Regions from separate parts of the Homo sapiens genome. Here all the other regions are linked to region 1. The links come from fine-mapping of genetic effects on gene expression. A gene starts in region 1. Each other region holds a variant in brackets. All regions are shown on one strand. Distances are between the middles of the regions. Region 1 holds the start of CD300LF (CD300 molecule like family member f). Region 2 holds the start of CD300H (CD300H molecule (gene/pseudogene)). Region 3 has its middle 11 kb from the start of RAB37-AS1.

Region 1 (2,762 bases):
TGTTATTATTTTTGAGACAGAGTCTTGCTCTGTTGCCTAGGTTGGAGTTCAGTGGTGCGATCTGGGTTCACTGCAACCTCTGCCGCCTGGGTTCAAGTGATTCTCCTACCTCGGCCTCCCGAGTCACTGGGATTACAGGTGAATGCTACCACGCCCAGCTAATTTTTGTATTTTTTAGTAGAGATGGGGTTTCACCATTTTGGCCAGGCCGGTCTCTAACTCCTGACCTGGAGTGATCTGCCTACCTTGGCCTCCCAAAGTGTTGGGATTACAGGCATGAGCCACCATGCCTGACTTTTTTTTTTTTTTTTTTTTTTTTTTTTTGTGGAGATGAAGCCTTGCCATGTTGCCCAGGCTGGTCTTGAACTCCTGGCCTCAAGTGATCTTCCTGCCTCAGCCTCCTAAAGTGCTGAGATTACAGGTGTGAGCCACCGTACCTGGCCTTGTAGTCTGGGGTTGGATACCCAATCTCCTCATAGCTGCCTTCCAACCTTTGGTCTGGAATCTCTCCTCTGGCTTTCTGACTTTGGCCACAAGTGCCCCTCAATCCTCTTGAACTTCTGGCCTTCTGGGCTCCCAAGCATCTGGCTACACCTGAAGCTCCAGGTTTAGGACATCGTGTCTATCAGCCGTGGCTCTCCAGGACCCCTCTGGTGGAGCCGCGTGCCCCTGCCCCCAGCCAACCCACCAGGTTTGGAGGATTGGATAAGGGCTGGCCAGACCCAGTGGATCTGTCTGCAGGTTTCCACATGACAGAGGAGCCACGAAGTTCTCTTTTTAGAGAACCCACGGTGGCTGTGTACAGAGAGGTACTTCTCAGAAGCTGATGATTCCTGTGACCCCTTGCATTGTCAACTGCCTCGAAATTTCACCCTTTCCACCTCCTTCCTCTTTTTTTTTTTTTTTTTGTTTTTGTTTGAGACAGAGTCTTGTTCTGTCACCCAGGCTGGAGTGCAAGTGGCACGATCTCGGCTCACTACAACCTCCGCCTACTAGGTTCAAGCGATTCTTCTGTCTCAGCCTCCTGAGTAGCTGGGACTACAGGTGTGCGCCACCACGCCTGGCTAATTTTTGTATTTCTAGTAGAGACGGGGTTTCACTATGTTGGCCAGGCTGATCTTGAACTCCTGATCTCGTGATCCGCCCGCCTTGGCCTCCCAAAGTGCCAGGATTACAGGCCTGAGCCACGGTGCCCAACCAACCACCTCCTTCCTCTTTTAGTCTCTTTCACCCATGGGAAGTGACTGAAGGAGGAAGTTCAAGGGCGAGAGTGAGTACCAGCAGAAGGCTGGGAGTCTGTAGTTTGTTCCTGCTGCCAGGCTCCACTGAGGGGAACGGGGACCTGTCTGAAGAGAAGATGCCCCTGCTGACACTCTACCTGCTCCTCTTCTGGCTCTCAGGTGAGCGGGCCTGGGTCTGTCTTCTTGGGGAAGCTTAGCAAGCAGGAGGAGGTGGCTGAGAGAGGGAAGAAGGGACCCGGCCAGAAGGTGTCCTTAATGGCATGAGCCTTGTGCGTTTCATCCACATACCCACCATTCACCTAGCATTTCCGTTGCCAAGGCAGGAATACAGGGCATGACCTTCATAATGAAGCCAGTGCAAGGCAGAATTCCTGACCCCCAGGGGCTGATCATGTGAAATGGACAGACTGTAGGCCCCGCCGGCCAGGGAAAAGCAGAGGAGGAACATGGGCTGCTCAGGAGAGCAGGCGACTGCCTGATCCTGGACTGGGTGATCTGTCACCTGCGTGGAGGTGTTCTGAGCAAGGGCAGGCGTCAGGGAAGAGGTGAGGCTGGAGGACTTTGAAAGGAGGGAAGAGGGAGTTTGCTGGGCAGAGAGGGAGTGGTGGTTCTAGGCATTTGGGGCAGAAGGAAATAGTAGAAGTTGCTGAGGGACGGAAAGGTCAAGAGGAGATAAGACTGGCAGGGACGTAGAGGAAAGGAGGGACTGAGATGTGGGCAGAGCCAGAGGGCAGGAGACACCTTAAGTTGGTGCATACAATTTTTATTAAAAATGAAGGGAGGCCAGGGAAAGAGGCTCATTCCTGTAATCCCAGCACTTTGGGAGGCTGATTGCTTGAGCTCAGGGATTCGAGACCAGCTTGGGTAACATGTGGAAACCCTGTCTCTACAAAAAGTACAAAAATTAGCCAGGTATGGTGGCATGTGCCTATGGTCCCAGCTACTTGGGAGGCTGGAGGCTGAGGCATGAGGATCACTTGAGCCCAGGAGTTGGAGGCTGCAGTGACCTGTAATCACACTACTGCCTTCCAGCATGGGTGACAGAGCGAGACTCTGTTTCAAAAAAAAAAAAAAAAGAAAAAAGAAAAAAGAAAAAAAAAGAAAGAAAACAAAAAAATAATTTCAAGAAGTGAGAAGTGATAAGTACTGTGAGGAAAACAGAACAAGATGATATGTTACAGTGGGACCCAGGTAGGGGGATGCTGTAAGTCAGGTGGGCTGAAACAACCCCCCTGAAGAGGGTCCCAGATGCCTGTCCGAGCCGAGACCTAGGAAAAGGATCAGACACAGGATCGGGACCAGCTTTCCAGGCACAGGGAACAGTAGATACGAGGGCTCTTGTGTAGGAATGAGCTTGGACTGGGCACGTCTGAGGAAGAGGGAGGTCAGCACGGCTTTGCCTCATGCTTCAGAAGATCCTGGTGGGACAGATTGGAGAAAAGGTCTTGGGGAAGAAAGTGACTTGTCCAGGACTGCTAGGCTGGTACAGGAAGAGCAGGGAGTGGCTCATGGACACTTGGC
Region 2 (2,762 bases), 150 kb after region 1:
ACACCACTCACATCACACACACCACACACACATTACACACACCCTACCCCACATACTGTACATATACACCACATGTACACACATCTCACACCACACACGTGCACACACATACACACTACACACACACCACCTGTGCACACACACCACACACACATGCAAACACACACACTACATGCACCCCACCCCACACATCACACACATACACCACATGTACACACATACACACACTACACACATCCCACCCACACCACACACACCACTCACACCACACACACGACCCCAAACACCACACACATACACACACACTACACACATCTCACACACACCACTCACACCACACATACACACACACTACACACACACCATCCCACACACCATGCACATACATCACATGTACCTACATACACACATACCACACATACTACACACACTACCCACACCACACACACTACACATATATCCCTCATACCACACCCATATACACACATGTGAACACACACAGAAATATGAGGACTCCACATGCAGCAAAAAATGAACAAGCAGGAAACACATTTACTGAAACACCAAGGAGGAGACATTTGATAACAGAATGCCAGGAATTTGGAGTCTCCTAGTTCCAGAAATCTAAGTCCCTGAGTGAGGCCTTCTGAAGCTGTGCTTGCATTTATAAATCCTCCACAGCCATTCTGTGTATATCAGGCACACTTCTGGCCAGGTTCCCCCGAGTTAGCTCTTGATATATTGAAACTCTTATATGTGGTCATCTTGGGCGACAGGAAGAGCCACACAGGTCAAAAGCAAGGCTTATAGATGGTCCACCAAGCTCTGCGTGGTGCCAGGTCTGTGGAAACAGTCAGGCACGTGGCCAAGACAGGGACCTCTGGGGTCTGCTGAGGTCAGAGCAAGAGTGAGGGGTTAAGAGGTCAGAGCCTCTGAGGTTGCACCCAGCCTATCTGTACCACCAAGGATCAGAGATAGACCAGCGGGCATCGTGGGTGTGCCCCTACCCTGTGCAGTCTCGCAGGCCCGGCTCTTAGAAGGGTCCCACGTTTCATGCTTGGCTGTCACCATCTTGAAATTCTTAATAATTTTGGAAACCTAGGTTTGATTTTACACTGGGCTCTGCAAATAGCCAGTCTCATCCATCCAGTGAAGGCTGAGCCATACCCTGGGGCGGCTCATGCTGGCCACAGAAAACTGGCCATTCACAGAGGGGAGGACCTGCCCAGAAAATCCAGATGGCAGCTGGCCCAGTCTCACTGGTCCTGGGCCATGCTGTGATTTGGAGAAGGGCAGGCCTGTCAGCTGTGGGTAATGGGAGGGACATTGTCTTTACTGGGAACAGAAAGAGGAACAGCAAATG[C/T]AAACATGTTTTATTAGGAAGAACTTCAGCAAGTTCTCAAAATTGTTTCACCTGACCACATAGTGCCCCATGGCCCCAGCTTCCTCCATACTCTCACCAGCTCTGAGAACCAAACCCAGAAGAGGCCAGAGAAGGAAACGAGAGATGTGAGAAGGAAAAAGAGCCTCAGACCCTGCTGCCACAAGGGACTTCCATGCTGGTGAGATGACCCAGAGGGCTGGGGCTGCCATGCTGCCTTCAGCTCTGCTCCTTCTCTGTGTCCCAGATGAGCAGGGCAGGTCCTGGGTGCAGGGAGGTCTGCTCTGGCGGGTCAGGGTGAGGCAGGCATGAGAAAAGGCTGGCGAGGGGCAAGAGGAAGAAATGATATCAAGAAAGAGGGAGTGAGGTGTGCATAGAAGCTTCTCAAATCTCCTTATCGGGATAGGGTGGGGATTAAACGGTAAACTGCTTCCCACACAGTAAGCCCTAAGTAGATTTGGCAACTTTAATCATTATTACCGTCATTATTAAGATCAGGAATGCCACCACGATCCATCAGAGAGAAGGGGGAATAGGGGACAGAAAACCAGTACTTACTAGGCTAATCACTGTAATACATATCTTGTTTCCCACTATCTCATTTAATTCTTATTGCAATCCTGATGAAAACAAGAGACCGAAGCTCGCTCTTAGAGGTGCAAATAATTTAGATTAAACAGTTTATAAAAGGCACAGTCAAGGTCCAAACCTAAATACTTTTATTTCCAAGATCATTGCTCCTTCTCTAATTCAATGTCAATGTCTGCTGCGCCTCCTTGTAAAGCTTCACTTACATATCTGGAGGCATATGCTGCATCCCCACGTGGGAACCCTGGGTGTCCCCACAGGTCTGGGCTGGCCCCAGGGCTGCTACTTAATGGGCCCCCAGAAGGGTGAGACAGCTGGGAACCTGTGGTCAGCCCTGGTCCGAGAGTTTCCGTAAATGATGGTGGAGGGAGAAAGTCAGTTTCTTTGCAAGGCTGGGTAGGCGGGAAGCTCCGTAAAAGATGGTGGGGGTGGAGGTGGAGGAGGCTGCCCATGTTGGCTCAGAGTCAGGGTCTGGACTGAATATCCAAGGAGAGGGAGGCTCTGTGGTGGGATTCAGTGTGTGCCCCACAATGTTTTTGCTCCTTGTGGAATTAGCCCCAAATCATTAAGAGAGAAGTTTAAGGACCTGAAAGAGCAGGCTAACAGCGCCCCCAGAGCCTGAGCTGAGAGCAGCAGCGATTTCAGGAGAGGACTGGGTGTGCCCACCCCTTCCTTGCTCCTAAGCCTGTGCCTGGCAGGCAGTTAGCTCCCTGGGAAAGCTCGTGGACCTCAACACTGTGGACATTTGGGGCTGCGTTATTCTGTGTGTTGGGGGCTGTCCTGTGCATTGTAA
Region 3 (2,762 bases), 24 kb after region 1:
CTTTTGAGAACTATGTGCATATCATTGGCTTTCAGAAGATAGTACTGTTTGAGAGTAGTTGAGGGAGAAAAAAAAACTACTGAGTTGGCAACCTCCAAAATCCATGAGTAAGATAAATTTGCACTCAAGTGAGGTGAAAGGCTACCTTTGCTTGACATCTTGAAAAATAGAGCTCAAAGCTGCTTAGCCTTGGAAAGGGGAGACTGCTGGAATCGGTTGATTTCATGTACCAATAAATTTTTTAGATTGGCAAGGACAGATACAGTGATCAGCCTTTTATTCTACCAAGTAGGCACATTTTTTTTAGCTTTTCAGTTTTCTTTGCCAAAGTCAAATATGTCTGAACCAAGTAGGTAAATTCTTATTCAATTTCACAGGAATTGGTAATTGGTCAGTTCATTGAAAAAGTTTGTTAAACCCGGAACTCATAAAAGAGATATACTGTATTTTTTCTTTTCTTTCTTTCTTTTTTCTTTTTTTTTCCAGACAGAGTCTTGCTCTGTCACCCGGGCTGGAGTGCAGTGGCGCAATCTTGGCTCACCACAACCTCTGCCTCCCGACTTCAAGCGATTCTCTTGCCTCGGCCTCCCAAGTAGCTGGGATTACAGGCATGTGCCACCATGCCTGGCTAATTTTTGTATTTTTAGTAGAAACGGGGCTTCACCATGTTGGTCAGGCTGGTCTTGAACTTCTGACCTCAGGTGATCTGCCCACCTCGACCTCCCAAAGTGCTGGGATTACAGGTGTCAGCTACCACACTCGCCCACACCTGGTTAATTTTGTATTTTTAGTAGAGACAGGGTTTCACCATGTTGGCCAGGCTGGTCTTGAACTGACTTCAAGTAATCCATCTGCCTCAGCCTTCCAAAGTGCTGAGATTACGGGTTTGAGCCACTGCGCCAAGGCTATTTTTCCTCTACATGTTTTATTTTGACTTAAAATATCTAAATGTGTAGTTATTAGCAAGTATTTTGATGTAGACCTAAAGCCTTTGCTTTGCTTACAAGTCTGCTGAAAAGTGGGGCCCATTGCCTTTCCT[G/C]AAGCACAAACCACACACACATGATCCTGGGGTTTCAGTTCCAGTTTCTTTAACATGAAGCAAGAAATTCTAGAAACTTATGAAGCCACCTGATTGCAAAATCTTTCTTCATTTTTATGCATTTCTTTCCGATATTTTACAGTTCTCTCATTCATTCCTAATTTGATAGCATTTTAAAAAGTGACAGGCTTTTATAGTGTCTTTCCAAAGCAGTTTAGTTTTTGTAGAGATAACCGTTCTCTTTTTTTTTACACTCTTATTTTATTGGTCAATAGTCTTTCTGTTTAAATTCCTTTGTATTTTCTTTTTCTTTTCTTTTCTTTTTTTTTTTTTTGAGGTGCAGTCTTTCTCTGTCACCCAGGCTGGAGTGCCGTGGCGTGATCTCAGCTCACTGCAACCTCAGCCTCCCAGGTTCAAGCAATTCTCCTGCCTCAGCCTCCCAAGTAGCTGGGATTACAGGCACCTGCCACCATGCCTGGCTAATTTTTTTGTATTTTTTAGTAGAGACAGGGTTTCACCATGTTGGCCAGGCTGGTCTCGAACTCCTGACCTCAGGTAATCCCCCTGCCTTGGCCTCCCAAAGTGCTGGGATTACAGACGTGAGCCACCACGCCCGGCCAATTCCTTTGTTTACAGGTGAATTGATTCAAGTACATCATTCTAGTTAACACGTATGACCAGCATAAGCAAGTATGGGCCCAAATGCATTCTTGTTAACCAGGTACCACAACTGTGAGAGCAGAGAAGAGCCTGCCAGCTGTGAGCACTCTGTGCCTCAGGCTTAGTCAGTGTGCTCCAGTAAGAGACTGAAGGGTATTGGTTGACCTAATAAGTTGGTTAAGTGAGGGGTTGCTTAACAAAGTTTCTATTCAACAATCCATTGTCACCATAATTTCATAAAAGAAAGGAGCTTTGAGCACCCCAAGTCTCAGGATAATAGACAGTATTTCCTAAGAAAGGACAGTTGGTAACTTTATGCCAACATCTACTGATGTGTGTGTATCGTTTCCTACACATCAGTTGGTACTTGTCAGGGGCTGGTACTTAGGTATGGACTGAGAATTGGCAGCCATGGATCCGGTTCACACTGTTCTCCAGGCATGGACCCGCTCCATCACATCTCCGCTGGTGTAGTGAGGCTTCCCCTGAGGGCCTCTAGTGACCCTCTTTGTTTGGAGGCTGATGAAGGTTGTCACTAATGAGAGCTGTGGAGCTCTCCAGTAGTTGTGAAAGGGACCCTTGAAGCAATCAGATTCCCCCTGCCCCAGCACAAGCCCCTTCCCCAAAGTAGTCCACTGTGACCATATCCTCACATGGCTCTGTCCTGAGGGTCTGCAACTCTTGCATCAAGAAAGGGTGACTTGGCTGGGTGTGGTGGCTCACGCCTGTAATCCCAGCACTTTGGGAGGCCGAGGCAGGTGGATCACCTGAGGTCAGGAGTTTGAGACCAGCTTGGCCAACATGGTGAAACCCCATCTCTATTAAAAATACAAAAATTAGCTGGGTGTGGTGGCGGGCCCCTGTAATCCCAGCTACTTGGGAGGCCGAGAAAGGAGAATTGCTTGAACCTGGGAGATGGAGGTTGCAGTGAGCCAAGATCGTGCCATTGCACTCCAGCCTGGGAGATAGAGCAAGACTCCATCTCAAATAAATAAATAAATAAATAAATAAAAATAAAATAAATAAATAAAATAAACTGAATAAATAAAAAGAAAAGGTGACT

The links. PIP is the estimated chance that this variant, and not a neighbour inherited with it, causes the effect.
Region 2: its variant is fine-mapped to the expression of CD300LF in whole blood (TOPMed, PIP above 0.99).
Region 3: its variant is fine-mapped to the expression of CD300LF in whole blood (TOPMed, PIP above 0.99). The same link has a PIP of 0.9 or more in blood mononuclear cells and monocytes.

The regions. Positions count from the first base shown.
Region 1 is chr17:74,711,462-74,714,223 of GRCh38, reverse strand. It overlaps CD300LF (CD300 molecule like family member f), which reads left to right and starts at 1,301. Exons shown (of 7, transcript NM_139018.5): 1 at 1,301-1,400. The coding sequence starts at 1,358. It also overlaps a transcript of RAB37 not described here.
Region 2 is chr17:74,566,149-74,568,910 of GRCh38, reverse strand. CD300H (CD300H molecule (gene/pseudogene)) reads left to right here and starts at 1,402. Exons shown (of 4, transcript NM_001405511.1): 1 at 1,402-1,562. RefSeq lists an enhancer at 1-55. The variant C/T (reference allele first, on the strand shown) is at 1,364.
Region 3 is chr17:74,687,164-74,689,925 of GRCh38, reverse strand. It overlaps a transcript of RAB37 not described here. Among named protein-coding and RNA genes, the nearest start is that of RAB37-AS1, 11 kb to the right of the region's middle. The variant G/C (reference allele first, on the strand shown) is at 1,040.